Homo sapiens: one gene and its partners. The protein of the gene in region 4 purifies or fractionates together with the protein of the main gene of each other region. This does not show direct contact. Each region holds a gene or a part of one and is shown on either strand. Other genes may lie near its edges. The genes, in order: PDZD8, ABCB9, ADCY3, ABCA2, IGSF3, SNX14 and PEX11B.

Region 1 (3,787 bases), on a different chromosome or scaffold from region 4:
GGAAGGAAGGCTTATAATTATGAATTTAATGTATATAATTGATATAACCATGTACACTTTAAAAGAATGTATTTTGCCATTGTTGAGTATAATGTTCTATAAGTGTCAGTTAAATCAAGGTTGATGATGTTGAGGTTGCCTGTGCCTCCACTTCTTTTTTCTAGTTATATTGGTTGCTGAGAGGATGAAGAAACCAAGTTTTACCTCTAACAGCAGCTTTAGTAAAGTTACATTGCAAAGAGACATGCTTATAAGAATAGGAGGAATTTGTTACCATGTTTTATGGTCTACCACTGAGTTCATTTTCAGTCTTTTTTGGGTTTTGTTGGTGGTGGTGGGTTTTTTTTGTTTTTGAGGCAGGGTCTAGCTCTGTTGCCCAGGCTGGACTGTAGTGGTGCAGTCATGGCTCAATGCAACCTCCACCTTCCCAGCTCAAGTGATCAAATCAGGATAACTAGCATAGCCATCACCGCAAACATTTCTTTGTGGTGAAAATATTAAAAATAATCTCTTCCAGCTATTTTGGAATATACAATACATTATTAACTATAGTTACCCTATTGTGCAATAGAACATCAGAACTTATACCTCCTAACTGTAACTTTTTATAGCCACTTCTGATCTCCCCACTCCCCCTATTCTCCCCAGCCTCTGGTAACCACTCTTCTACGTCTATTTCTATGAGATCAAGTTTTTTAGATTCCACATATGAGTGAGATCATACAGTATTTGTCCTTCTCTGCCTGGCTTATTTCACTTAACATAATGTCCTCTGGGTTCATCCATGTTGTCATAAATGACTTTTCTCTGGGGTTTTGTTTTTTGTGGCTGAATAGTATTCCACTGTGTTTGTATACCGCACATTTTTTATCCATTTATCCATTGATGGACTCTTAGGTTGATTCCATAGCTTGGCTCTTGTGAATAGTACTGCAGTAATCAAGGAAGTGCAAGTATATCTTCATCATACCAATTTCATTTTCTTTGACTATATACCCAATAGTGGGATTATTGGATCATTGCTAGTTCTATTTTTAAATTTTTGAGGAACCACTGTACTGTTTTTCATAATAGCTGTAACTAATCTACTTTCCCACTAACAGTGTATAGGAGTTCCTCTTCTTCCACATCCTTGTCAATATTTGTTTTTTTGTTTTTTTTTTTTTTTTTTGTCTTTTTGGTAATAGCCATTTATTTGGTAATATGTGTCTTCTCTCTTGTTTCTTGATCAGTTTAGCCTATAGGCTTACCAGTTTTATTGGTCATTTTATTGAGTCAGCTTTTATTGATTTCTCTATTATTTAAGTATCTGTTCCATTGGTTTCTGTTCTTTATTATTTCTTTGCTTCTACTTTGGGGTTTAATTTCTTAAAATGGGGACTTAGGTCACTAATTTTAGATTTTCCCCCCTATATAAGCATTTAAAACTATAAATTTCCTCTAAAACACTACTTTAGTTGCATCCCACAAATTCTGATTGGTTGCATTTTCATCATTTCATTTGAAATATTTTTGGATTTCTCTTGTGATTTTTCTTTAACTCATGAATTATTTAGAAGTGTGTTGTTTTGCTCTCCAGATATTTGGGGTTTTCCTAGTTACTAATTTGTAATTTAATTCCACTATGGTCAGAAAACATGCTTTGTAAGAGTTCTGTCTTTTTAAAATTACTGATATTTGTTTCATGACCTTCTACATCCTGGTGAACTTACCATGTACACTTGAAAAGAATGTATTTTGCCATTGTTGAGTATAATGTTCTATAAGTGTCAGTTAAATCAAGGTTGATGATGTTGAGGTTGCCTGTGCCTCCACTTATTTTTTTCTAGTTATATTGGTTGCTGAGAGAGGGATGAAGAAACCAAGTTATACCTCTAGCAGCAGCTTTAGTAAAGTTACATTGCAAAGAGATATGCTTATAAGGATAGGAGGAATTTGTTACCATGTTTTATGGTCTACCACTGAGTTGATTTTACTGTTCTCTGTACTTTTGTATATATTGGAAATTTTCTGTAATAAAATCTTAAAAGCCAAACCCTCTCAGGTGATATTATATTCCAGGGAATGCATGTTGAAGCCACAGCATGCTTCACCATGTACAGGAAAAATATTTAGGGTTTCTATTTATGTTTGTTTTTTACATTGTCATTTTAAAAGTTCTATTTTGGCATATGTTTTATAGTGCCAGGCATATCCAATAGTCATAAATAATTTTAAGATATAGATGCATACATATGGGAGAGAATTATATATTATATATCATTGTACTATTCTGGTTTTAAAATAGTAGTTTTACCCTAGTGGAAAATCAGTTTTGTTCCAAAAGTTGTGTATCATTGCATGGTCTTGAACCTTATCTTAAATTTTATATTAAAATAACAATGTTTTTGTGAAATACTCATTTTAAAATGCTTTGTTTCACCAGGCTTTTAATTAAGAGGTGTTTTTATATTCTGAAACTTCTGAATCATGTCAGAACTTAATTAAGGTGATGATTTTCATTTCAGGGAATGCTGAAATTAAAATCTAAAATTAGGTCAGTGGGGTGCAGGCTTAAAAGGAAACAAAAACCAGCTTGTAAAAGAAACAGTGTCTTATGTTCTGTTCCCTGTACATACTTGAAATTAAGAGTATTTACTAATAATCAGTAAAAATTGGGGAGAAAGTGAGGTAATGTAATATTGGCCCTAATTATTGCTACTGAAAACCTTATCTTTTTTTTTTTTTGCATCTGGAATGTTTACTTCAGGTATCATTTGAATTAAGAAAAGCAAAGGGAAAGATATGATTTATAGATAGAAAATAAATTAAGAAACTAAATTACACTAACACCTTACACTAGCCTCTATTCACTTCCTAATCCTACCCCCTGAATCTCCATTCTACTTTTAAAAGCAGAGTAAATAACAAAAAAAAAAAACACATTCCAAATGCAGGTGTTAATTTTTAAACTTTACAGTACTCAGACTTACACTGTTTAGGTTTTCTACCCATTTGCTATCATTAGCTTCCTGCAATTAGAAAAACTTACATTCTAAATTTCAGCTTTGGCAATCTGTATATTAAGAATATATTTATGTTCCTGGATTTGAGAGAATATGTTGTTAAGGGTTTTGTTAAAAGCCTTAATTGTGTACAGCACTTTACATTGTAAGGTGATTAATTGCTGTGTCATAAGGCAGGGATTGGACAAATGTCTTAGGAGATTTAAACACAAATTACGTGTTTTGGCGGGGCTTTGTGTTTTGTAAACCTTTAGGTAATTCAGAATTTGACCACATATCCCATTTCTTGAGCACAGTATGATTAAGATTTTCCTTAAAATAACTTTACAAAATTTGTTAACACCCAAATTAAAGAGCAACTTCCAGTGAGGGTTCTTTTACCAGCGAATATCATTAGGTAGGAAAATTGAATTTCTGTCCAAGTGGGATTTATATATTAAAGCAGTGCAGCCAGTGATATATTTGGATATTAGGGTATTTGGCAAAGTCCCTCATGAGATATCCTTGAAGAATAGGACTTAAGAAATGTGGACTGGAGAATAATACAATTAGACTGATTTGTAATTGAGCGCCATAAACACTAATTGAATCCTTGTCAACAGCTGGGATGTAGCACTCTGCCTGTTTTTTTTTTTTAAATCAGTTGTTTGAATGAGGACACATAGCATGATGATGTTGTTGTTAATTCACAGATGATGTTAATCTAGTATCCACATTCCTGAAAATTGGATGGCAGGTTTATTTAGAAAACAAAATGATCTTGATGGGTTAGAATAGGACAT
Region 2 (3,787 bases), on a different chromosome or scaffold from region 4:
AGCCCTCTGTCTTCTCCTCCTGCTGTTAGTTCAGGCTGGGAACACCCTGGGCTTGGCCTGTGTCCTGGGAGCTGGCTTGCTCACTGAGGTTTTGGTGTGGGCTGCGGCCTCTGTGGGGCCCAGGCCAGGCCACCCGAGGTCCCTGCAGGAGCCAAGGCCTTGCTTTCCATTGCCCCATGGAAACCACCAGGTCCAGGACTACCCACGCCTGTGGCCGACAGAGACCCTGCTCCCATGGGGGTCAGCAGGTGAGGGCCAGGGGCCACAACGGGGAAGACGATAGAATATCCACCAAGATCCAAGCTCTGAGAGACACCGGCCTGGGTCGAAGCCCTGGTTCCTCCACTCACGAACTTCACCTCTCTGATCCTCTGTTTTCTTGTCTGTAAAATGGGAACACGGATAGTAGCCACCCCATGGGGTCCTTACACAGCTCTTAGCACAATGTCCAACTTAGGTAAGAAGTGTCTGCGCTTTCCTGCCCGCCACCAGCCAGGTTGTTATTTCCCTAGAAGGGAAGAGGAGTTACCCCCTCTGCCAGTGACAGGGAGGAGACATGGGTTTGAAGTCTGGCTCAGTCACGGACAGGCTGTGTGACTCTACGGGGGCCTTCCTGTTCTGAGCCCCAGCCTCCTCCGCTGTACAGCGGGATGTCATGAAGCTTAAGCAAGATGCTGATGACTGGGATTGGCTCAGAGTAGCCCTCGAGGGGTATCTGCTCTTCTCCCCCACCCCCCAACCCCGCCCACAGGTAGGGAGGCCCGGCTTCCCAGTGTCTGTCTCAGAGGCCCCTTAGCATCCCCCACCGCCACCCCCAAGGCCCGGGTTGCTGTGGTGAGAGCTGAGCCGCGTGTGTTCCAGGGGACCTCATCTCCCGCCTGACCTCGGACACCACCATGGTCAGCGACCTGGTCTCCCAGAACATCAATGTCTTCCTGCGGAACACAGTCAAGGTCACGGGCGTGGTGGTCTTCATGTTCAGCCTCTCATGGCAGCTCTCCTTGGTCACCTTCATGGGCTTCCCCATCATCATGATGGTGTCCAACATCTACGGCAAGTACTACAAGGTAGGCCTGCCCTGTCTCTGCTGGGGACTGTGCACCCTGGCAGCCCCCAAACATCCCCTTAGGAGGGGCTCAGGGGGCCACTAAGGGCTAGTGAAGGACAGGTCTTGAGGCTGTGTTTGCATTCATTCATTCATTTCTTCGCTCATTCAATAAATAATTATTGACCACCTGCTATGTCCCAGGCACTGGGATACATCAGTGAAAAAGACAAGGCCCCTGCCTTCCTGGAACTTGTATCTAGTGTCAGAGACAGATACTAGGTACCAACAGCATAAAGAATGAGAATCCACAATACAGTAAAAGATGGTCAGTGCTAAGGAGAAACATGAAGTGAGCAGAGGGATTGGGAGCATTGGGTGTAGCTGCAATTTTAAATTGGATTTACTGGCTGGGCCCGGTGGCTCATGCCTGTAATCCCAGAACTTTGGGAGGCACAGGCAGGAGGACCACTTGAGCCTAGGAGTTCGAGACAAGATTGGACAATATAGCAAGACCCCATCTCTACAAAAAAAAATTTTTTTTAGTTAGCTGGGCTTGGTGGCGCATGCCTGTGGTCCCAGCTACCTGGGATGCTGAGGTGGAGGATCGCCTGAGCCCAGGAGGTCGAGGCTGTAGTGAGCAATGATCGTGCCACTATACTCTAGCCTGGGTGACACAGCAAGACCCTGTCTCTAAAATGAATGAATAAATACAAGTTAAATAGGTCTTGCTGAGAAGGGGACATCTGAATAAGGGTCTGAAGGAGGCGGGCATCTTGGGAGGTATGTGCTGAGCAGAGGGCACAGCCAGTGAAAAGGCCCTGGGTTGGAACGTGCCTGGTGTGTATGTGGGGGTGGTGCGGGCCCGCTGTGATGCCATCGCGGGCCCGCTGTGATGCCATCATGGGCAGGCTGCTGTCCCCTCTGGCCACCCCACGGCACTGCTTCTGCTTCCGAGCTAGGGCCGTGAGCCAGGTTTGACCTCACCCTCCTCCTGCTTCCTGAATGGGCGGGTGCCCCCGAGCCCTAAGGGACAGACAGGCTGGGTTCAGACAGGCAGGGCTGTGACCCTGTGACAGGTACAGGCAACCCCCTCACAGTCACCCAGGCCCACGTGGGGTACTTCTAGAGCAGGGGCTTGGATGCATGACGGCCTCCAGGTGGTGCCGGGTAAGTCATTGTCGCAGCTCCATTGGAGCCTTTGGTGTTGGTGACCTGAGACCAGGGTAGCAAAGGAAGCCATCTCCCACCCAGCCCCCGGTGAGGCCACTCCCCACAGTCTTCTCCAGCCACACAGGTAGGACCTCTTCCCGAAGTTCCTGGTCACGAGCCTCCCCACCGTCCTCACTGAGATGAGAAAGTAAATCTATTCTTTAGAGTCTGAGCCATTTCTGGCACGCTGCTCCCCACCCCTTGCTTCCGGCCTTCCCACCAGCCCCTGGGATGGAGCAAGAAACCCTGGAGCTCCCCCTCAGCCCCCACCTCTGTGTGCACTGCAGGCCCTGCCTTTTAGTTCAGCTAAGGGAGGCCTCAGGAAGGCTCTGTTTGGGTTTTCCACCCCATGCCTGAATGTGTTGTGTGTAGCCAGCGAGTCATCTCCACAAACCACACACACCGCCCATGGCCAAACATGACTCAGGCACCCTGCATGCTTCCTGCGGCTGGGGCGTGACACATGGTCATGGGACATGCCAGTGCATGCTCCTGTCCTGGACTCTCAGGCAGCCTTCCTGGCTGGCTTGAGAATCAGCATAGTGACTCCTGCAAAGTGTGAACAGCTCCACCCAGGGGCCTCTTCCAGGACTCTGGTGAACAGCAGCCTGATGGCCGCACACTTGGGACCACTTTTCAGCTCTGCCTGTGGTGACATGCACATGGTGTGGGCAGATTTCACAACCCATGGCCCCTGCCACCATGTAGAACTTGGCTGGGAGTTCTGGAATCTCTTTATCAACCCTCAGGCTCTAACATAATTTATGTTGATGATGTAAATGGTGCCCCTTTAATAGTTGGTGTTTCTTAAATAGTGTACAACCTGAACAACCGTCCAAGGCATCCCCTGCTCTTCCAGCACAGGGTCAGGTGTTGAGGCCCCTTTTCTGAAAGGATTACCAAAAACTGTCCAGTCATGAATAGCCTCTTTTGAATACTGGGGATGACTTAACGATCAGCACCGTGCCCTATCCTTCAGGAGCTGAAACCATTGCCCCAAGAGCCTCTCTGGAGTTGACTACCTGAGTGTGTCAAATTGAGCCAGAAGGGGATGGGGGAGAAAGGGCTAGATCTTGTCTTTTTGTCCTAGGAACCTCTTGCATATAGCTGGTGCCAGCGAAGGGTGGAAAAACCCAGAGAGGCCTGGGGGCTCCAGTACATAGTGAGGCTGTTTTGGGGTCTTCTCCTTCTTGTCCCCCTCCTGTCCATAGAGGCTCTCCAAAGAGGTCCAGAATGCCCTGGCCAGAGCGAGCAACACGGCGGAGGAGACCATCAGTGCCATGAAGACTGTCCGGAGCTTCGCCAATGAGGAGGAGGAGGCAGAGGTGTACCTGCGGAAGCTGCAGCAGGTGTACAAGCTGAACAGGAAGGAGGCAGCTGCCTACATGTACTACGTCTGGGGCAGCGGGGTACGTGCCCCTGGCCAGGCAGCTCTGGCTGTGGAGGGATGGGATGCAAAGATGGGGGAAGCCCTCGATCTAGGACATCAGTCCTGCATGTTGGTGTCAAGCTGGTGGAGAATCTGTCTGT
Region 3 (4,330 bases), on a different chromosome or scaffold from region 4:
GGCACCAAACCCAGATGCAGACATCTCCGCCTCATTCTCTGGTCACCGGCTTGCTGGCTCCCCAGGGACACACACTGCCTACTGTCCCTCAGGTCCCCTGGTCTCTGCAGCCCCTGAGGGCCTGGCACTTGGTGGGAACACAATACTATAATAGTTAAGCTGAGGCCGAAATTCCACCCCTTCCAGTAGAAAGCGTGCTCCAGGACCAGCAGAATGCGTGCTTTAGGACCAGGAGACCCTACGTCACAGTGGCCGGCATGACTGTCCCCATTTGCATCCCCACACCACACCTTCAGTGGGGAGACCACCATTCTCCACTTCATAGAACTCCCCAGGCACCCCGAGCTCCCGGAGGCAGGAAATATGACAACTGCGTCTTCCCTCTGTGCAGCCCTTCACGTATCCTAATGCGCTTTCCCCCACATCTCCTGCAATCCTGACAACAACCGTGTCATGCAGGCAGAGCGGACGTTATCCCCATTTGACAAAGGGGCACTGAGTCCACACAGCTAGTCAGTGCTGGGGAGAGATGGGAATCAAGGAGCCCTCTTCCCAAGGGAGGTCCTCCTTGCCAGGGTCACTGACAGGGAATGGCCAGGACAATGCTGCCTCAAGACCAGCCCTGGGTGGGCCTTCCTGTCACACACTTAGACTGGGCACAGGTGAAGAGTGGCCCTGAGGCCCAATGCCCTGACATCCTCCTTTCCCTGGGGCCAAGCACAGGCAGACTCCGGGTAATGGCACAGGGGTGAAAAGGCAGGGACTAGGGAGAGAGGTGAGAGCCCCGGAGGCCCCCAGGACACATTTTGACTCAAAGGCAAAGCAAACAGCAACTCCAACAGGTCCCAAGTTGGTGAGAGCTGCAGGAGAGGACGCTGTGGGGGGACAGTGGGCAGGACTCACCTCCCGCAGCAGCTGCATCCCCTTGAGCTCCTCCTGCTGCTGCTGGGCCACGGTGACCCCCAGGACCAACGTGTGCACCACACAGGAGACCACGGAGATGATCACGATGGGGCTGAGGCTGAGGGGCAGCGTGATGAAGAAGGAGAAGACAAAGAAGACCTGCCAGCCCACCGTGTCACTAGCCGCGTGGGCACGCGCGAAGTTCAGGCCCAGGTAGGAGAAGATCTGGGCGGTTATGAGCAGCCACAGCACGTAGGGCAGCACTCTGCGGGTGACCCGGTCCGGGAGCAGCCCCTTTTTGCAGAGCACGAAGAGGATGATGTCCAACACCAGTCCAATTCCAGCCACGGCGAGGGAAGCCAGCTTGTCGCTGGAGAAGACCACAGCACACATGACCACCACGTAGCAGTCAAAGAGGGCTGCAAAGACCACCAGCACCAGCAGGGTCTCGTGGCGCTGCCTTTTGAAGTAGGTCTGGTAGAGGTTCTCCAAGGACTCCGGCACGAAAGTCAGCCGCATGAAGCGAGGCAGGCACAGGCAGGAGCCCGAGTTCCGGACCGAGATTTCATGGGTCCGGCCCACCCCGCGGTCAGGGTCGGAGGGCAGGCTGACGGAGTACTCGGCTGAGTACTCGGCCGAGTATTCGGGCTCGGAGAAGCCCTGGTTCCTCGGCATACTGGCTGGTGTCTGCTACTGGCCCTAGAGAAGTGGACTGGGAACGGAGGAAGAGCTCTGGACTGGGCCTCCTCTCAGGGCTCTCTGAGACCGGGGGAGGGCTGAGGGCCTCTTCTTGTCTGGGGCGGAGGGGAGGCCACCTCCAGCAGGAACGCAGAGCGGGTTTCCAGAGCACAGGTAGCACTGATCAGCTAGAACTGAAAAGGGCATTGCTGAGTAGAAGCACCTCTTCCCTCCTACCTTGCGGTTTCCCCATGACCCGCCCTAACCCTCATAAAAGGATCTCTGCTGCAAGAGCCTCCCAACCCAGGGCCTTCCCTGCCACCCCCGGCTCACACCACCGCCCACCGCAGGCACACTTAGTCCTGTCCACGCCAGACACTCAATTTCCTGTCCCTGGCTTGTGGAAGGGCCTAGCCGCCTTTCCATCCCTGGTAACCGGTTTCTCTCTGTCATCTCTTCTTTCTCAGTCCCCGACTTCCTCACCTAAATTCCCTCCAGGCCCAGTCCTTAGAAGCTGTAAATAAAATGTGCCGGAAAGAAATCAGGACCATCGTGGGGGATTCCTGAGCCTTCCTTCTGTTTACTTCCTTTTTCCACCAAACCCTTGGAGGCTCGGGCTCCGATCCGGCCCCCTTCCCACGCTCGGGGCGCTGTCTTCCCCCCCGGAAGCCTGGCCCTGCCCCTGCGTTTACCTGTGCGGGAACTCGGCCACCGCGTGCTCCGGGACGGTCCCCGCGCGGGCTGGGGCGGGAGAGCTCGGCGCGCCCGAGGGCTGCTCCCCGCAGAGCCGCGCCGCCCCGGCAGCGCCTCGGGGCCCGGCCGGAGCGCGATCTCCCGCCGTCAGGCCCGGGATCCGACCGGGAGAGGCGCAGGGCTGCCCCTCAGCATCCGCGGGCGCCCGGCCGCAGGGGGAAGGAGGAGGCGGCGACGAGGGCTGGGAGATCCGTGGGCGCCGGCCCAGCGCGCCCGCCCTGGGGCTGAGGCTCAGGGGCAGGGGCCGTGCGGGGGCCGGCAGGCGCGGGCGGCGGCGAGCGCGGCTCTCCGGACCCCTCCCCTGCACCCGCGGCGGCGGCGGCTGCTAGGGGCGCGCGCGGGGCCCTCCCCGGCGGGAGCGCGGGCCGAGCCCGGGGAAGCCCGCCAGCATCCTCTCGCCCGCCCGCGCCGAGCCGAGCCAGCCGAGTCCGGGCTCGGCGTGCTGCACAGCTATTCCCCGCGCGGCGCCGGCGGCTCCGGGGCCACGCGCGCTCCAGGCCCCGGGAGGCGGGAGGCGGGAGGCGGGAGGCGGGCGGGGCGGCCCCTCCCTCGCCCCAGTCTCCGCCCTCTCGGCGGCGCGTTCCGGAGTGGGGCGGCGAGGGAGGCGCCGGGCGGCGGTCCCAGGACCCGCGCGGGCGAGAGGTGGAGGGGCCCGGGCGGCCCCCGATCCGGCGCGGGCGGCGGGCTGGGGCGATGGCTGCGTGGAAGCGCGGGCGCGGGCGCGGGCGTGGGCGGTGGGCGGTGGGCGGCAGGGCTGGGGCGAATCCACCCCTTCCAGCGAGGAGGCCCGGTCTAGGAGGATGGAAGCCCGGGACGCGCCCGCCCGCAGGTGAGGCGCGCTCGGGGCACCCCGCCGCCCCCTCCTCCGCCGCGGCTTCCTTCCGGGCCGGCAGAGGCCAGGGCTCAGGTTTGGGGACCGCTCCGCCGCGGGGCACGTGGGGCCTAAGTATCCCCGCCCACCCCGGGAGCCCAGACTCCGGAGCGCCGGGCCTGAGCTTTCCGCAGAGGGGCTCGGCAGCGGAGCCCTGTCCTGCTCCCAGGAGGCGGGTGGCGGTGGCCCGGTGGGCACTACACACGTGGAACTGGAAGAGTTCCTGAGACCCTGCTTCGAAGAGATTTCCCGTGCACATTCTACCCGTTTGAGATGTGTTTGAGTTCACAAACTGTCCCTTAAAGATGCGAATGCTCCTTTGAATAGTTAAACCTATCAGTCTCTTACACCATAGTATAAATTATTTTCCTTGCATTTGACAGAACACCGTGCTAAGATCAACTACAGGCTTTGGGAATTTAAATAAAGGAAGAGGAAAGAGATAGAATGTTTTGGGACAAAAGGGACAAAAGCATGTGTGGGAAGGTAAGTGCTGAGGACAGCCAGCAGCAATAGGGGGTCATCTCCCCTGGGGAGAGCTGAAGGAATGAACAGAGGGGAGAGAAACTTGGCTATCCAGACCCTGGATGGAGCTGCCACCCCATGCCCCTGAGAGTTATCCGCGGGCACCCCTTCCAGAACCTCAGGCATCACCTTGCATCCCTCGGGGAATGGATCCATTAGAGAATCGATCCTGCCACTGCTGTTTCTACCGTTCCCTCACACTCTGTCTGAAAAGGCGCCACCTTCAGCCCATACTTCGCAGGGCTTTGATTCCAAAGGTAGGGGACCTAACATCAGATATAGGAGTTTGGTAATTTAAATAAAGCAAAACTTTGCCCCATTGTTTTATTTTATTTCTATTTTTTATTTTTTCGAGACTGAGTCTCACTCTGTCACCCAGGCTGGAGTGCAGTGTTGTGATCTCAGCTCACTGCAACCTCCACCACCCAGGTTCACGCAATTCTCCTGCCTCAGCCTCCTGAATACCTGGGATTGCAGGCACACACCACCAAGCCCGGGGTAATTTTTGTATTTTTAGTAGATGGGGTTTCACTATGTTGGCTAGGCTGGTCTTGAACTCCTGACCTCAAGTGATCCGCCCACCTCAGCCTCCCAAAGTGC
Region 4 (3,787 bases):
CTCCGACACCTTGAGGAACACTTCCTCCAGGGTCGTGTCCATCAGCCCGAAGCTGCTGAGGTGCAGTGCATCCAGGCTGCGCTCCAGGTGCTGCAGGGGCGGTGGAGGGGGAGGCTGCGGCAGGGACGCCCAGGCAGGAGTGCGCCCACCTCCACCACCTGCAACTGCCCCCCGACCCGTGCGCCCTCACACCTGGAAGAGGCGCTCGAAAGCCCCCTTCTTGGCGGCCTCGCTGGGCAGGATGTAGGAGAGCTCCGTGCTTGTGTCTGAGACCAGCAGGCAGGAGGCCACATGCTTGCGGATGAACTGGGACACCTGGAGCTCGGAGCAGCTGCTCAGCGGGGCCCGACCTGGGGGGCTGGATGCCAGCCCTGGCTCTGTGGGGGACGTGGGAGCAGGAAGGAATTCACTCAGGGGCTGGGAGGAGGGACCCCCAATGGGAACCCAACTGGGTCAAGATATGGGCATTGGAGAGGAAGAACCAGGCCCCAGCAGGTATCCTGGGCCCAGGGGGTGACGCTGAGGACCCAGCCTCTCCAAGATACGGGCGTTGCAGAGGGCGGGCCAGGCCCCAGCAGGCATCCTGGGCCCAGCGGGTGACGGTGAGGGCCCAGCCTCTCCATTGTGGATTCTCAGGTGGGGGTCCCGGGGAGAAGGTGGCCCGAAGCCAGCTCAGGCAGCTTCAACACAGACCTTGGGGGCCCCCCGGCTCGGCGGGCCGCTTGACCAGCGTGAGGCGGTACCCGTCGCCATAGGTGCCCTTGAGGAAGAGCGGGGAGCCGCAGCACTTGAGCTTCCCATGGGAGATGATGGCAATGCGGTCCCCAAGCAGGTCAGCCTCATCCATGTGGTGGGTGGACAGAAGGATGGTGCGGCCTAGGACAAGGCCAGACCCAGGGTCAGGGGGCAGGGGAGGCGCCGCCCGCACCCCTGCCCACACGGCACCCCACTCACCTGGCTTGTACTTCAGGATGAGGTCCCAGATGGCGCGGCGCGCGTAGGGGTCCACGCCCGCCGTGGGCTCGTCCAGGATGATGGCGCGAGAGCCGCCCACGAAGGCGATGGCCACGGACAGCTTGCGCTTCATGCCACCCGACAATGTCTGCACCAGTGAGTGCCGTTTGTTGGAGAGCTCCAGGTCCTCGATCATCCTGGGACAGGGAGGTGGGGCATGGGGCTGCTGCTATGCAGAGCCCCAGGGCCTCCGCCCACCTGCCCCGCCCCCCGCCCAGCCCACCCACTTGTCCATCTCTCTGCGGATCTCCTCCTGAGCCATGCTCTTGAGCCGTGAGTAGAACCAGAGGTGTTCCTCCACCGTGAGCCGGTCAAAGAGCACATTGTGCTGCGGGCACATGCCCAGGTTCTTGCGGATCTCATCCATCTCCGTGCGGATGTCGTGCCCGTAGATGGTGGCGGAACCCGACGTTGGAGGGAACAGGCCGGTCAGGATGGACCTGGGTAGGTGGGCGGGGTCATGACCCCACGCCCTCTGCAGGGGCCCCACCCTGCCCTGACTAGGACTCCTGCTCTGGTCAGCAGATGCCCACCGCCCTGCCCCTCCGACACTCACATGGTGGTGGTCTTGCCCGCCCCGTTGTGGCCCAAGAAGGAGACCACCTGGTTCTCGTAGAGGTTCAGGCTCAGCTTGTTCAGGGCCAGCTTCTTGTCGTCCTTGTAGACCTTGGTGAGTTTGTCCACGCAGACAACCAGAGGCAGGTGGGTGGGCTCCTCCTCCATGCCACGGGTCTCCTCTGCACCAGGGCTGTGGATCAGCAGGGTGGGGGCGGCGCCAAGGCCACCCAGGACTCTGAACCCAGCGCCCACCCCAGCCACCATTCTGATGCCAGCCTCACCAAAGCGCCGGCTCTCCATGGCACAGGCCTGGTCCTCCTCCATGACACTGAGGCGGGGGGTGCGTGCCCACGGCCAGCTCCACTCCCAGGCTTCTGTCCGCCCACTGCCCAGCCAGTAGGACTTCTGCAGTGGGAAGTACCAGGGCCGGGGCAGCCCGTACATGCCTGGGGGTCGGGGAGGGGAGGGGAGGCTGACCTAGGGCCTGGGGTGACCATCCACCACGTGGGCCACGTGCCCACCCAGGGAGCCACCCGTGCTGCATCCAGGAGTGGACACAGACTGCTGGTCCCCAACCCTGGCTGGGGACCCCTGCCTCTCCCCTGCCCTCCAAGGGCTGGCCAGTACCTGGGTGCACAGCCTCAATGTACCACGTGAGGATGCCATAGACCACGGCGTCCACCATCAGCATGGTGACAGCCAGGAGCAAGTTGAAGTCGTCCCCCTCCACCGGGGACTGGCTGAAGGTGTGCCACTGGATGCCCACGCCGGCCACCTCATACAGCGCGAAGTACTTAGAGCCCAGACCAAAGGCCGTCGTGGACATGAGGGACTGAGAAGGCAGTGGTGTCAGCACGTGGGGTGGCCCGGCACCCCAGCCGCCCGCCTGCCCGCGACCCTCACCGCGATGCACTTCTCGAAGGCCGTGATCTTATCATGCGCCACCTCCTCTCGGATCGCCACGTACATGTAGGGCACGTAGCTCAGGAAGTAGATGATGCCACCGCAGGCCGAGGCCAGCTTGGCCTTGGAGTACAGCACAGACACCAGGAAGCTGGGTGGGCAGGGGCCACGCGCACCGTCATCCACCCGCACGCCCGGCCTCCTGGGCAGGCCCGTGCCAGGGTCCAGGGGGCTCTGAGAGGATGTGGGGTGAGCTTGCTGGGCAAGTGCCTGCCCCAGGTCCCTCCTACCATGGCCCGCGCTCACCAGAACATGATGGTGGCCACCGCGTAGACTGCCAGGAAGAGCCAGATGATGACCACGTGGCTGTGCATAAGCACCTGGCCGTACTTCAGGATGGCGGTGAGTGCTGTCACGGAGATGGACAGCTGCACAAAGCCGGTGATGAACCAGGCCACCCAGTGCACCGCGTTGTTCAGGCCCATGGTCTTCATCACCTGCGGGTGGGCCAGGGGCTTGGGGCAGGCCCCGGGGAGGACGCCGCCCCTCCCTGCCAGCCCGCGCCTCCAGGGAGAGTCCCGGCCCGCGCACCTCCTTGAGCCGGTGCTCCTTCTCCGCCACGATGTGCTGGATGGTCATGGCCACGGAGTAGACCCAGGAGATCACCATGCACAGCGGCATCATGTGCTCAATGACAAACAGGAAGCTGCGGGGAGGCCGCGCTCAGGCGCCACTCAGCCCCAGCCCCAGCCCCAGCCCCGGGCGCCCAGCACTCACTCATCGCGTGTGTAGCAGGGGTAGGGGAACATCTGCACGTAGCTGCCTGGCTCCACCACATCGTGCCCCACAAAAGTGTCGATGATGGCGCGCTCCATCATGTCTGTGGGTGGGGGCAGCCATCAGGTGCCGGGCAGGCCCTCTCGTCCTCACACCTGTCCTCCCCCATGAATCCTCCAGCCGGTCTTCCGGGCCTGCTCCTCACCCTGGATCCAGACGAAGCCGTAGAGGAAGTAGAAGCGGCCGCCAGTATTGGGCCCAGGCCGCCAGTAGGCGCGGCGGATCTCGTTGGTTTTCTCGGTGAAGCTGGAGTTCTGGCGGATCTTGTAGTGCACGTGAGGCGGGAGCGAGCCGTCCTTCCGGGTCTGGAAGATCACACCTGGGGCCGGGAGGTTGGGGCGGGGCCAAGATGCAGGGGCGGGACCAAGGCGTGGTGGGGGGGAAAGCAAGGCACGGGGGCGGGGCCAAGGTGTGGGGGCGGGGACAGGAGGGTCCAGGGAAAGGTGGGACAGGGCTGGGGTGGGGGCCCCAGGGG
Region 5 (3,787 bases), on a different chromosome or scaffold from region 4:
TTGGTCATCCGCAACCCAGACCACTAGACTAATTTTGCTTTAGAACTGGACTATATCAAGTGTGAACGATCATACTGGTTATCATGTGGGAAAAAAGGTTTAATTACTCCCTAATGGTCTGGGAAACCAAAGATTTCAAAATACGGAGCTCCTGGGGGAAGGAGAGTTAATAAAATGGGTCCTTGAGAAGTGAAGTGGGAAGCCTGCCTCATGCCATGGCACCAGCGATGCCACAGGTGTACCCAGTGCCCTGCCGAGAGCAGAGACAGTGTTCTCAGAGTTGCTATCAAAAAGGAGGCCGCAGACTGCATTCTGAAGCATCAGACAATGGGTCACATGCAAAAACAGAATTAAATACACAAAAATAGCACCAACTTAAGGCAAGCCTGGGCAAACTGCACTACATCAAAGAAAGAACACACAACTGGTATCAGATTTTTTTTTCTGTTTTAATAAAGAGAAGGCCTGGACACCTGAAAGTTGACGGGAAGCAGGCATTACTCATTTCTCCGAGTTCACAGTTTTGTTAGAATGTCTTTGCTCTGATTATGGTTTTTTTTTTTTTGAAATGGAGTTTTTTGTTTTGTTTTGTTTTGTTTGCTTTTGTTGCCCTGGCTGGAGTGCAATGGTGCAATCTCGGCTCATCGCAAACTCCGCCTCCCAGGTTCAAGAGATTCTCCTGCCTCAGCCTCCCAAGTAGCCAGGATTACAGGCACCCGCTACCACATCTGGCTTTTTTGTGTTTTTAGTAGAGATGGGGTTTCACCATGTTGGTCAGGCTGGTCTTGAACTCTTGACCTCAAGCGATCCACCCGCCTCGGCCTCCCAAAGTGCTGGAATTACAGGCATGAGCCACCACGCCTGGCCTGATTATGTTTTGATGGATATACAGAAGCTCTTGCTTTGGTACAGAAACAGGCCCCCCTTTGCTTCGACCTCTGGGCCCCCCACCTTCAGAAATGTCTGGTGCCATTCCTGGCTCCTCCTCTCAGTGGTCTTCCAGGATATCCACTCACAGCTTTCTGATGTCGCCCACCTGTCTCTAGCCCAGATACCCAGTCCTCATGGCAACTGACTGCAGCAATTTTTACAAATCTACACCCTTAGGGTTCCCATCCCAGGACATTCAGGTTTCTCCACCCCTTTAGAAGTGCCCAGAATATCCTCTACCCCACAATTCCAACAGGACGTCACTCTCCTCTTACTTAAGAAAAATGCCTAAAATTCCAGCCCTTCCAAAAGGCCTTTCCAGATTGACCACTCAGGAGTTACTCTGGCCTCCCCTTCACTCCTCCTGCTAAACTGAAAACAAGGACAGACTTGCCTGGCCTCTCTCCCCCAGTAGACACCTACCCTCAGTGAACACATCCTGTCAGTGTCCTCCTGTCCATTTGCAAATTGATTGACTGTTTCATTGCTGGCCTTGGATGACCTCTCCTAGAGGGCAGGGACGGGTGGTGTTCGGCAAAGCCTTGGTCGTCTGGATAATGGGAAATGGGGTCTTCTGGTGAATTTAATTACAGGGTTAGGTGGAAACTTTGCTTCAACTCTCGTTATTAGAAAGCCTATTGTAAAGCTTTTTAAAATACAACTGACCACTTTCCAGGCAGGGTAGAGTTAATATGCCTTAATCTTTGATTTAGGATCTTGCAGTGCCCCAGGCTCACCATTCTCTTCTGCTACTATAATTATAGATGCGGAAGACATACAGACTGGGCTGACGACTGCTTGGAAGCTAATTTCTAGAATAAACCCTTGCTACCACATCTTGTGATTTTTGCCCTTCTGAAGGTGGAGTTCAAAAATAAAAACAAAATCCCACTTAACTGAGGGTTCCAGTTGAGGGAGGTCTGCTGCCATGGTCTTTGTTAAGTGCCTGCCACCATGGCCCACAATTAGTCAGTTAATAAAGGGTTCTTGATGAGAGAATTTGGCAACATGTGATTTTCCACAAATATAAGCTTGATTTTGATGCAACCACTCATTTCTTTGAAAATCAGGGGGCATTCACACACAGGTGTTCTAGATTTCCTTAAAGTAAAAACCAACCCTTTACAAGGAATAGCTGTGTTCACTTTGAAGCAGTAAAGAAGCAGGTGTCCACTCATGGCAAATGAGGAACTCCCTTTTTTTTTTTGAGACGGGGTCTCGCTCTTTTTGTGTGTGTGTGAGATGGGGGCCACCCAGGCTAGAGTGCAGTAGTGCAATTACAGCTCACTGTAGCCTCAACCTTCTGGGCTCAACCAATTCTTCCCACCTCAACTTCTGAAGCAGCTGAGACTACAGGTGTGTACCACCATGCCCAGCTAATGTTTTTGATTTTTAGTAAGATGAGGTCTTGTTATATTGCCCAGGCTGGTTGGTCTCAAACTCCTGAGCTCAAGTGATCCTCCTGCCTCAGCCTCCCAAAGTGCTAGGATTATCGGCATGAGCCACCATGCCCGGCCAGAAGCTAAAAATATTAATCAAGGAGTCATAACTAAGGATGCACTGCACACCCAAAGCCAGGGACCACGAGAGGTCAGCAACTGGGACTGCTTCCTCCAGTTCCCAGGCTGGGGCTCAGCAGCAGTGGCCTGGGCTCTGGGGACTTACTTTAAGCCTAAATCCCAAACTCATTATAATTCAAACCAATTTTCTGTGTCCAGCATCATCCCACCTGAACTGGTCCTTAAAACCACTGACAGTCATTTCTCCAATCTGTAAAAGGCCTGCTGAGGCCTTTGCATTATCAGGACTTAATTGGGAGTAGAATGCCCTCCCCATCAAATCCTGACCATTTCTGAACACTCAGCCCATGTCCTCTTCCTGAGTGTCTTCCCCAGCAACAACCACCTACACTGAACTTTACTTCGATCTCTGCAGGAAACTGTAGATAGAGATGCGGTCTCACTATGTTGCCTAGCTGGTCTTGAACTGCTGAGCTCAAGTGATCTCCCTGCTTCTGCCTCCCAAAGTGCTAGGATTACAGCAGTGAGCCACCACACCTGGCCTATGTATGCTTTTCTTTTTTTTTTTTTTTTTTTTTTTGAGACAGAGTCTTGCTCTGTGGCCCAGTCTGCAGTGCAGTGGCGCAATCTCAGCTCATGGCAACCTCCAGGTTCAAGGGATTTTCCTGCCTCAGCCTTCCGAGGTGCTGGGATTACAGGCACACACCATCACGCCCAGCTAATTGGCCAGGCTGGTCTCAAACTCCTGACCTCAGGTGATCCACCCACCTTGGCCTCCCAAAGTGCTGGGATTACAGGCGTAAGCCACCATACCCGGCCACGTATGCATTTTAAAATGTTATGCTCAGATGGGGTCTATAGGCTTCACCAGACTGCCAAAAGGATCCATAACACAAAAAAGGTTAAGAAGCTCTATAATCAGACAAATGTGAATTCAAATTCAGATTCTGCCAAATTCCAGCTCTTTTCCTTTGAACATAATTGTTTTCAAGGGAAAAGTGTCATGAATTTCCTTATCTTGATCAAGGAAGCCAACACAGAAACAACACCTACCTTGTGAAACCATTCACTCATCAAAAAATTAACTGGGCCAGGTGTGGTAGCTCACGCCTGTAATTTCAGCATTTTGGGAGGCCAAGGCAGGCGGATCACGAGGTCAGGAGTTTGAGACCAGTGTGGCCAACATAGTGAAGGCCCATCTCTACTAAAAATACAAAAAAATTAGCCGGGTGTGGTGGTGTGTGCCTGTAATCCCAGCTACTCGGGAGGCTGAGGCAGGAGAATCGCGTGAACCCAGCAGGCGGAGGTTACGGTGAGCCAAGATCGTGCCACTGCAC
Region 6 (3,787 bases), on a different chromosome or scaffold from region 4:
CCAAGATAAGCAAAAAGGAGCAAAACAGACTTTTGAAGAAATGATGAATTACATTCCAGGTGTAATATTTAAGAAGTAACTTAATTTCATATAGATTAGCAGTCCGTTGAGGTCACAATGTATAGTAATTATTGAAGCTAATTTTTTACTGTGAGTTTTCATTTTACAAATAGTTGCAAAGATCAGTTAAAATTAACACACTAGTTAAATAATTCTTTCAGATGTTAGCACTAAGACTAAGATATTAGGACTTTAAGGCAAGGCTGTTTCTACTCACATAATAGCCAGATTCATTCAAAAATAACTTATAGTCAGACTGGTCAAAGTGACATGTGGGACAATTGAAGGCCTGTGTCCACGACACCATAAGAATAGCTCACTAGTGTGTATGATAAAAGATCAGAATTCATTCATTCCAAATTTATTGAGCACCTTCCATATTCCAGGCACTATGCAAAATGCAAGGCATATAAAAAATGCACTTGAGTAGGTCAGTCTAGCAGGAAGACAGGCATATAGACAAAACATACATGTGATAATAGAGGCATTTTCAAGTTACAGAGATATCACAAAGGAGGAGGATGGTCACCTCCTCTGTAAAGTTGGTAGGTTTGGGCCACTAAGGAAATGAGTGGTAGTAACCTCTTAACTGTGACGGGAAATAACAAGGAAGAAATGTCAAGGGATCAAAGCAGGTGATTCTTAGTTTAGAACATTTTGAATGAGAAGTGCCTATAAATTACTCAGGAGGAAGTGTCTGTTAAACACTTAGACACCGAGGTTCAAAAGTTGGAGAAAAGGTGGTATAGGATAGATTAGTAGAGATATGGGAGCCATGTGTGAGTAGATACTAAAGCATAGGGAGAAAGTATGGAGTAAGAAGAGAAAAGGGTGACTTCCAGTTTCTGGTCTGGCACATAAGAACCTGGCCATCATCACTCCATCCTAGTAACAAGCAAAAACCTGAATGAACTAAAAAAACTAAACAACTCTTAGATTCACCAGAGAGTGAGGTCATACGGCAAGCCACTGCCCCCCAAGGTTGGAGAGAATCATAGCTAGCTGCAGCAGAAACCCGTGAACTCAAAACCCCTGGAGAAGCCAGTGCTGAGCTAGGGAAACCTGAACTATAACTGACAAATTGCTACAGCCTTTTAAATCTCTTTTTAAGAGATTAAAAACTCCAGGGGAACCAAGTCATGGGGTTACCCATCCACATTTTTTTTTTTTTTTTTTTGAGACAGAGCCCCACTGTGTCACCAAGGCTGGAGTGAAATGACACGATCTCTGCTCACTGCAACCTCCGCCTCCTGGGTTCAAGCAATTCTACTGTCTCAGCCTCCCGAGTAGCTGGGACTACAGTCCTGCACCACCACGCCTGGCTAATTTTTGTATTTTTAGTGGAGATGGGGTTTCCCCTTGTTGGTCAGGCTGGTCTCGAACTCCTGACCTCAGGTGATCCACCCGCCTCGGCCTTCAAAAGTGCTGGGGTTACAGGCGTGAGCCACCGTGCCCAGCCCATCCACACTTTTTTTGTGAGTTTTACCTCCAGGGCCTTGACCAAGATCCCACAGTGAATATTGGAGAAAAATCCCCATGTGCTTCTGGCAAGGGGGCCAGAAGGGAACCATTTTGAAATACATCAGTCAGGGCATTCTGTTCTTGACAAGGCCCTACCCTCAGTAGAAAGTGACCAGAGCCTGACTGACCTGATGGAAGGGAAAGAACCAACTCTAGCCAGCCCTGGCCTTCCACATGGAAGAAGGGAAATACCCAACTCCAATACACTCTAGCCATCTTGTCCTGTGCAAGGGGGTCAGGGGGGCCTGAGAAGCATGTGTGAAGTTCACAGTTCAGTGGTACAAGCTCACTAAAAGATTGAGACCCCCTCCTAGGACTATAGAACCCTTCCTCTCCCTCCATATTTTATCACCACATTACTAAAGGCCTGTTTGCAGCAGTTCCTCTTAACTTGTGTGTCATGTCCAGTTATCAAGAAAAAAATTACAAGACATATTAAAGGCAAGAAAAAACAGTTTGACGAGAAAGAGCAAGTATCAGAACCAGAGTCAGATATGGCAGGGATGTTAGAATTATACACCAAGTGGGATTTATCCCAGGTATTCAAGGCTGGTTCAGCATTCATTCAAAAGTCAATTAAGGTAGTCCATCATCACATCAGCAGGCTAAAGAAGAAAAATCATGATCATAGCAGTAGATGCAGAAAAAGCATTTGACAAAATCTAACACCCACTTATGATCTCAGCAAACTAGGAAGAGAGGGGAACATCCTCAACTTGATAAAGAATATCTACAAAAACACCTATAGCTAACATCACACTTGATGAAAAACTTAAAAGCTATCCCACTAAGATGAGGAACAAGGCATGCTCTCACTACTGCTTTCAACATTGTACTCGAAGTCCTAGTTAGTGCAGTAAGACAAGAAAAGGAAATAAAGAGCATAGTGATTGGGAAGAAAGAAATAAAACTGTCTTTGTTCACAGATGACATGATTGTCTATGTAGAATATCCAAAAATTGACAAAAATGCTCCTGGAAATAATAAGCAATTTTACCAGGGTGGTAGGATATAAGGTTAATACACAAAATTCAGTTACTTTTCGTGTATATCATCAGTGAGCAAGTGGTATTTGAAATTAAAAAAAATACTATTTGCATTAGCACCCCCAAAAGTGGAATACTTGGGTAGTAATCTAACAAAACATGCACAAGATTTATATGAGAAAAATTGTAAAACTTTAATTAAAGAAATCAAAGAACTAAATAAATGGAGAGAGATTTTATGTGGATAGAAATATTCTGTTTTCAAGATGTCCGTTCTTCTGAACTTCGTCTATAGATTCAATGCAGTCCCAATCCAAATCCCAGTAAGTTGTTTTGTGGGTATTGACAAACATTTTAAAGTTTATATGGAGAGGCAAAAAGACCCAGAATAGCCAACTCAATATTGATTGAGAACAACAAAGTCACAGGATTGACACTACCTTTCTTCAAGGCATACTATAAAGCTACAGTAATCAAGAAAGTGTGATATTAGCAAAAGAACAGACTTACAGCAACTGTTCTTATTAGCAAAGGAACAGTTTACAGCAAAACTGTAAAACTTAGAGGATAACATGGGAGAAAATGTAGATGACCTTCTGTTTGGCGATGACTTCTTAGTTGCAACACCAAAGGCATGAACCATAGACGAAATAATTGATAATCTTTACTTCATTAAAATTAAAAATTTTGCTTTGTGAAAGACACTATAAAGAATGAAAAGAGAAGCCACAGACTGGGAGAAAATATTTGCAAAAGACGTATCAGATAAAGGACTGTTACCAAAAATGTACAAAGAAATCCTGAAACTCAACAATAAGAACACAAACAACCTGATTTTAAAATTGGCCAAATATCTTGACACCTTACCAAAGAAGATTACACACAAGCATATGAAAAGATGTTCTACATCATATGTCATCAAGGAAATGCACATTTAAAACAATGAGATACCACCACACACCTGTTAGAATGGCCCAGATCCAGAACACCAACACCACCATTTGCTGGTGAACATGTGGAATTCTCATTCATTGCTGGTGGGCATGCAAAATGGTGTAGCCACTTTGGAAGACAGGTGAGCAGTTTCTTACAAAACTAAGCACACTCTTACCATGAGATCTGGCAATTATGTTTCTTGATATTTACCCAAAGCAGTTGAAAACATGTCCACCCAGAAACCTGCACATGAATGTTTATAGCAACTTCAGAATTGCCAAAAC
Region 7 (4,246 bases), on a different chromosome or scaffold from region 4:
ATGGCCCCCAAGCGCACCCTTTAACTCATGCTATGGACCCAAATCCCTGTCCTGCCCGGTCCTGAGTCCTAGGTCACTCACCTGGGGGAAGGCAAGCAGGAAACTAAGTCCCCAGGCTGCCCCCAGAAGTTTCCTTACACCTGAACGGGATCCAAGCGGGTTGAGTACTGCTGCCTGGCGGTCCAATCCAATGACCACAGGCAGGAAAGCTGCAGAATACGTGGCCATTAGTTTCAGGAACATCAGTGTCCGACATGCGATGTCCACAGCCAGCCATTGAACAGTGATATTCCAGGTGGCATCTAGGGGCATAACCACAAAAGTGACTAGTAAGTCGGCGGCTGCTAAATGGATGAAGAGTCTCCTGACCGGAGAGGGGCGGAGCTGGCTGGGTTCCCGCCGTGTCACTGACCACAGGACTGCCAGGTTCCCTCCAGCCGAAGAAACAAACAGCACAATGGTCACTCCCACTCGGACCTTGGCTGCTGCCGAGAAGGTGGGCAGCTCTGAGCCCTCCACCTCCACTCCTGATCCAGCCCAGACCTCCTCCCCCGCTGCTGACCCCAAGGGGTGCCGTTGCCTGCAGACATGGTGGCCTGGAGAGAAACTGAGGAGGATGAAGTGTGGGTATGAAGCGGTTAGCTTTGGCCACTGATTCTTCGCCCTCCTTTTCAGGATCTGGAGCTGATTATTGCGAATTTCGTTCACTAAAGCCTCTGCTTCTGGAGACTCTCCATCTGTTCTGGAGGAGGTCACTTGTTCAACTGTCAAGGTTCTGCAGGGAACGAAGATCTGGTACCAATCACGCTCCTTTTTCCTTGGACAGACCAGCCTGGGCTTCAGGCCTCTACTGACCTAGACCTCTTTAGCCCCTACAGCCCTGGATTCAGTCGGGGCCTGCGTGCATGTGTATTTGTGAGGTTCTGCCAGGCGCACACCTATGCCGGCGGCCTCCAAGACGTGGAGATCACTGCGGCGCTTTCTCGCCCCGCCCCGGCCCCTGCAGGCCCCGCCCTTGGTCATGAATATTTAAAGAAGAAGGTGCCGCTGGAGGCGTGCTAGGGAGTAGGGGTCGTCTGATAAGGGGAAGCTGTGACGCAGACACGCACAGTAATACACAGATGGAGGCTCAAAAGACACGAGTTTCGCGTCCTGAAATTCCGCTTCCAGGGCCAAGCTTTCTTTTCTGATACTGTTTGTCCCTCGCGAGGCACCGTTGGGTCGCGCAGTAGGCGTGACTAGGGGCGGGAAGTGGGGCGGGAGCAGGGCCGCGGAGCCTGGGCTGCGGCTGTCATGGACGCCTGGGTCCGCTTCAGTGCTCAGAGCCAAGCCCGGGAGCGGCTGTGTAGGTGCGGCCCGAATAGGAATGGGGGTGGGGCGGGGGAGGGATGGACAGAGGAAGACTCTAGTGAGGCGAAGTCAGTTTAGGCTACAGGGGGGTCAAGAAGGGTCAACTCCGGCTACGGGGGCCCGAACGGACCGTGAGGCGCAGATTTGAGCCGCTGTTGAGATGATTCCTTTCCGTTCGCGGAAGAGATGGGGAAACTGAGGCATGAGTGGGCCAGCGGGGAGGCCGCTCAGGGTTGCTGTGTCCACATAAGACCGACAGTGTCCTCACTGGGCGGTGATGGAATGAGGAGCATTCGCCCCACGGTGGATAGCCCCAGACTCTGCCCCCAGAGCTGAGGAGGCACTCCCAGTTTCCGTGTCCCCACACCGTGCTGCCATTCGGGAACTCCCCTGCCTCCGCCCTGGCGTTTGGTCTCCATTCAGCTAGAGGGCCTTGAAATCTCTCAGTTCACCTATTCTGAGGAATAAAATGCCCTCCAACTGTCTGCCTCCCCCTCATCGATCACGTACATGCTCACGCTGATGTGCTTGTGATGGACCCCTGCGGCCTGCACTGGCCCCTTCAGGCCTCATCATTGTCAAATCTCTAATTTGCTCAACATTCAATAGTGCTCCCCACCCCTTTCTAGACTCTTTTTTCTCCTTATGCCTTTCCCTTCCTCTGGCCTGGAGAAATGGTGAGATATGGGCATGGAGGAGGAAGGGGAGTGTTCTCAAACTGGGAAAGGGGGAAGTCTGTCTGTGCCTTTTGGAAGATAGTTTTGAGCGGAAGGTTAGGGAGGTCTCCACCTTACCTTGCCTGCCCTCTCCTCTAGGGCCGCCCAGTATGCTTGCTCTCTTCTTGGCCATGCGCTGCAGAGGCATGGAGCCAGTCCTGAGTTACAGAAACAGATTCGACAACTGGAGAGCCACCTGAGCCTTGGAAGAAAGCGTAAGTAACTCTGTCTTTCCTTTTATCCCCCAACCTTTCCTCCATCCCCAGCTCACCTTCCTTTGTCCCTCCTTCCTGTACCCTCTCTGTTCTTCTTTCTCATTTGGCTCTGCACTTACCCTCTGCATGAGTCCAGTTGAGATAAGAGAGCAGGGGTATGGAAGTAATTAGGCGGACTGGAGAGAATGGGTCAAGTTTGAGAAAACTAAACTGGCACAAAAATTAAATTTGAAATTGAAAAATGGACTGTTTCTGCTCTTTATTTTTTATTTTTTTGAGACAGAGTCTCTCGTCCAGGTCAGAGTGCAGTGGCGCAATCTTGGCTCACTGCAACCTCTGCCTCCCAGGTTCAAGCAATTCTCCTGTCTCAGCCTCCTGAGCAGCTGGGACTACAGGTGCCCACCACCATGCCGGGCTAATTTTTGTATTTTTAGTAGAGATGGGGTTACACCATGTTGGCCAGGCTGGTCTCAAACTCGTGACCTCAGGTGATCCACCCACCTCGGCCTCCCAAAATGTTGGGATTACAGGCTTGAGCCACCATGCCCAGCCTGTTTCTGCTCTTTAAAAAAATTGTCATTATTATTGCTCAACTTTTGCCCTCTTGCTTTCTCTGTTTCTGTTTCTTGTTATCTGCCTCTCCACTTACAAATCCTTGCTTTCCCTTTCTAATCTCCACAAGTTCTACGCCTGGGTAACTCAGCAGATGCCCTTGAGTCAGCCAAAAGAGCTGTTCACCTATCAGATGTTGTCCTGAGATTCTGCATCACTGTTAGTCACCTCAATCGAGCCTTGTACTTCGCCTGTGACAATGTCCTGTGGGCTGGAAAGTCTGGACTGGCTCCCCGTGTGGATCAGGAGAAGTGGGCCCAGCGTTCATTCAGGTTTGATATCCTGTTCTCCTTTAAGATTTTTTTTTGTAGCCTCTATATTGCATAGCTTGTCTTATATGAGGGAAAGATATCTTAGGATCTTTCCAGAGTATATAAGTCTTGATCAGTCACTTGGCTTCCAATCACTTAGATCTTAAACTATCGGAGAATATCAAATGGGGAGAGATGGAAGACAGATGCTCTTCCATAATGAATGACTAATATTGTGCAAGGTAAGATATTATATCACTTTAATTGTGCTTCTATACCACAGGTTATTCCCCCTCACTACCTGCTTACTCATTCATTCCAAAGATATTTATTAGATGCTTACTGTGGCGCAGGGGATAAAGCAAAGAGCTAAACAGATAATGTGCCTGCTCCCATGAAGCTTCTAGTTTAGTGAGGGAGTTAGATACTACAATGAATAACTTCTCATATATATTTGTGGAAAAGTATGCGGTATTATGAAAGAATATCACAAGGGGAGCTAATTTAGATTGGAAAATCAGGAAAAAACTCTTTGAGAAAGTAATATTTTAGCTCAGACCTGATGTCTGAGTAGGAGGAGTTAGACAAAGCCAACAGTAGCAGAAAAGACATTTCCAAACAGAGAAAATTGCACATTCTAAGTAAGGCTTTGAACTAAGAAAGACTTAAGGGAATTAGAGAAATAGAAAGAAAGCCAGTGTGATTGACAGTATTGAGTCCATCAGTTCAAATTTGAGAGATAGACAGGCACCAGATCTTTCATACAGGGCCTTTTAGGCAATGTTAATGTTTGTTTTATTTTATCCTACAATGGGACATTATTGAAGGATTCTGAGCAGGGAAATGACATGATTCAAATTGTGTTTAAAGGACATCTCTTTTTGAGATGTTGAAAATGGATTGCAGGCCGGGCGCAGTGGCTCACGCCTGTAATCCCAGCACTTTGGGAGGCCGAGGTTGGGGGGATCACGAGGTCAGGACTTCAAGACCAGCCTGGCCAACGTGGCAAAACCCCGTCTCTACTAAAATTACAAAAATTAGCCAGGTGTGGTGGCGGGCACCTGTAATCCCAGCTACTCGGGAGGCTGAGGCAGGAGACTCG

Evidence for each region.
Region 1: the proteins of ABCA2 (region 4) and PDZD8 purify together in Homo sapiens (affinity purification with mass spectrometry; one large-scale study listed by BioGRID and IntAct). This does not show direct contact.
Region 2: the proteins of ABCA2 (region 4) and ABCB9 purify together in Homo sapiens (affinity purification with mass spectrometry; one large-scale study listed by BioGRID and IntAct). This does not show direct contact.
Region 3: the proteins of ABCA2 (region 4) and ADCY3 purify together in Homo sapiens (affinity purification with mass spectrometry; one large-scale study listed by BioGRID and IntAct). This does not show direct contact.
Region 5: the proteins of ABCA2 (region 4) and IGSF3 fractionate together in Homo sapiens (co-fractionation; one large-scale study listed by BioGRID). This does not show direct contact.
Region 6: the proteins of ABCA2 (region 4) and SNX14 purify together in Homo sapiens (affinity purification with mass spectrometry; one large-scale study listed by BioGRID and IntAct). This does not show direct contact.
Region 7: the proteins of ABCA2 (region 4) and PEX11B purify together in Homo sapiens (affinity purification with mass spectrometry; one large-scale study listed by BioGRID and IntAct). This does not show direct contact.

The regions. Positions count from the first base shown.
Region 1 is NC_000010.11:117,291,712-117,295,498, reverse strand, and holds part of PDZD8 (PDZ domain-containing protein 8), read left to right. Parts: exon of another isoform or gene 1-2,035; intron 2,036-3,787. UniProt on the Homo sapiens protein: Molecular tethering protein that connects endoplasmic reticulum and mitochondria membranes. PDZD8-dependent endoplasmic reticulum-mitochondria membrane tethering is essential for endoplasmic reticulum-mitochondria Ca(2+) transfer.
Region 2 is NC_000012.12:122,945,904-122,949,690, reverse strand, and holds part of ABCB9 (ABC-type oligopeptide transporter ABCB9), read left to right. Parts: intron 1-861; coding exon 862-1,067; intron 1,068-3,468; coding exon 3,469-3,666; intron 3,667-3,787. UniProt on the Homo sapiens protein: ATP-dependent low-affinity peptide transporter which translocates a broad spectrum of peptides from the cytosol to the lysosomal lumen for degradation.
Region 3 is NC_000002.12:24,917,410-24,921,739, forward strand, and holds the start of ADCY3 (adenylate cyclase type 3), read right to left. Parts: upstream 2,829-4,330; 5' UTR 2,274-2,828; intron 2,177-2,273; exon of another isoform or gene 2,065-2,176; intron 1,776-2,064; 5' UTR 1,579-1,775; coding exon 904-1,578; intron 1-903.
Region 4 is NC_000009.12:137,014,721-137,018,507, forward strand, and holds part of ABCA2 (ATP-binding cassette sub-family A member 2), read right to left. Parts: intron 3,632-3,787; coding exon 3,458-3,631; intron 3,356-3,457; coding exon 3,253-3,355; intron 3,182-3,252; coding exon 3,067-3,181; intron 2,973-3,066; coding exon 2,782-2,972; intron 2,627-2,781; coding exon 2,476-2,626; intron 2,405-2,475; coding exon 2,200-2,404; intron 2,019-2,199; coding exon 1,854-2,018; intron 1,752-1,853; coding exon 1,571-1,751; intron 1,455-1,570; coding exon 1,242-1,454; intron 1,152-1,241; coding exon 955-1,151; intron 877-954; coding exon 694-876; intron 378-693; coding exon 193-377; intron 91-192; coding exon 1-90. UniProt on the Homo sapiens protein: Probable lipid transporter that modulates cholesterol sequestration in the late endosome/lysosome by regulating the intracellular sphingolipid metabolism, in turn participates in cholesterol homeostasis.
Region 5 is NC_000001.11:116,657,473-116,661,259, forward strand, and holds part of IGSF3 (immunoglobulin superfamily member 3 isoform 2 precursor), read right to left. Parts: intron 1-3,787.
Region 6 is NC_000006.12:85,510,072-85,513,858, reverse strand, and holds part of SNX14 (sorting nexin-14), read left to right. Parts: coding exon 1-59; intron 60-3,787. UniProt on the Homo sapiens protein: Plays a role in maintaining normal neuronal excitability and synaptic transmission. May be involved in several stages of intracellular trafficking. Required for autophagosome clearance, possibly by mediating the fusion of lysosomes with autophagosomes.
Region 7 is NC_000001.11:145,915,736-145,919,981, reverse strand, and holds the start of PEX11B (peroxisomal membrane protein 11B), read left to right. Parts: upstream 1-1,264; 5' UTR 1,265-1,293; coding exon 1,294-1,349; intron 1,350-1,452; exon of another isoform or gene 1,453-1,536; coding exon of another isoform or gene 1,537-1,550; exon of another isoform or gene 1,551-2,027; intron 2,028-2,165; coding exon 2,166-2,281; intron 2,282-2,963; coding exon 2,964-3,165; intron 3,166-4,246. UniProt on the Homo sapiens protein: Involved in peroxisomal proliferation. May regulate peroxisome division by recruiting the dynamin-related GTPase DNM1L to the peroxisomal membrane. Promotes membrane protrusion and elongation on the peroxisomal surface.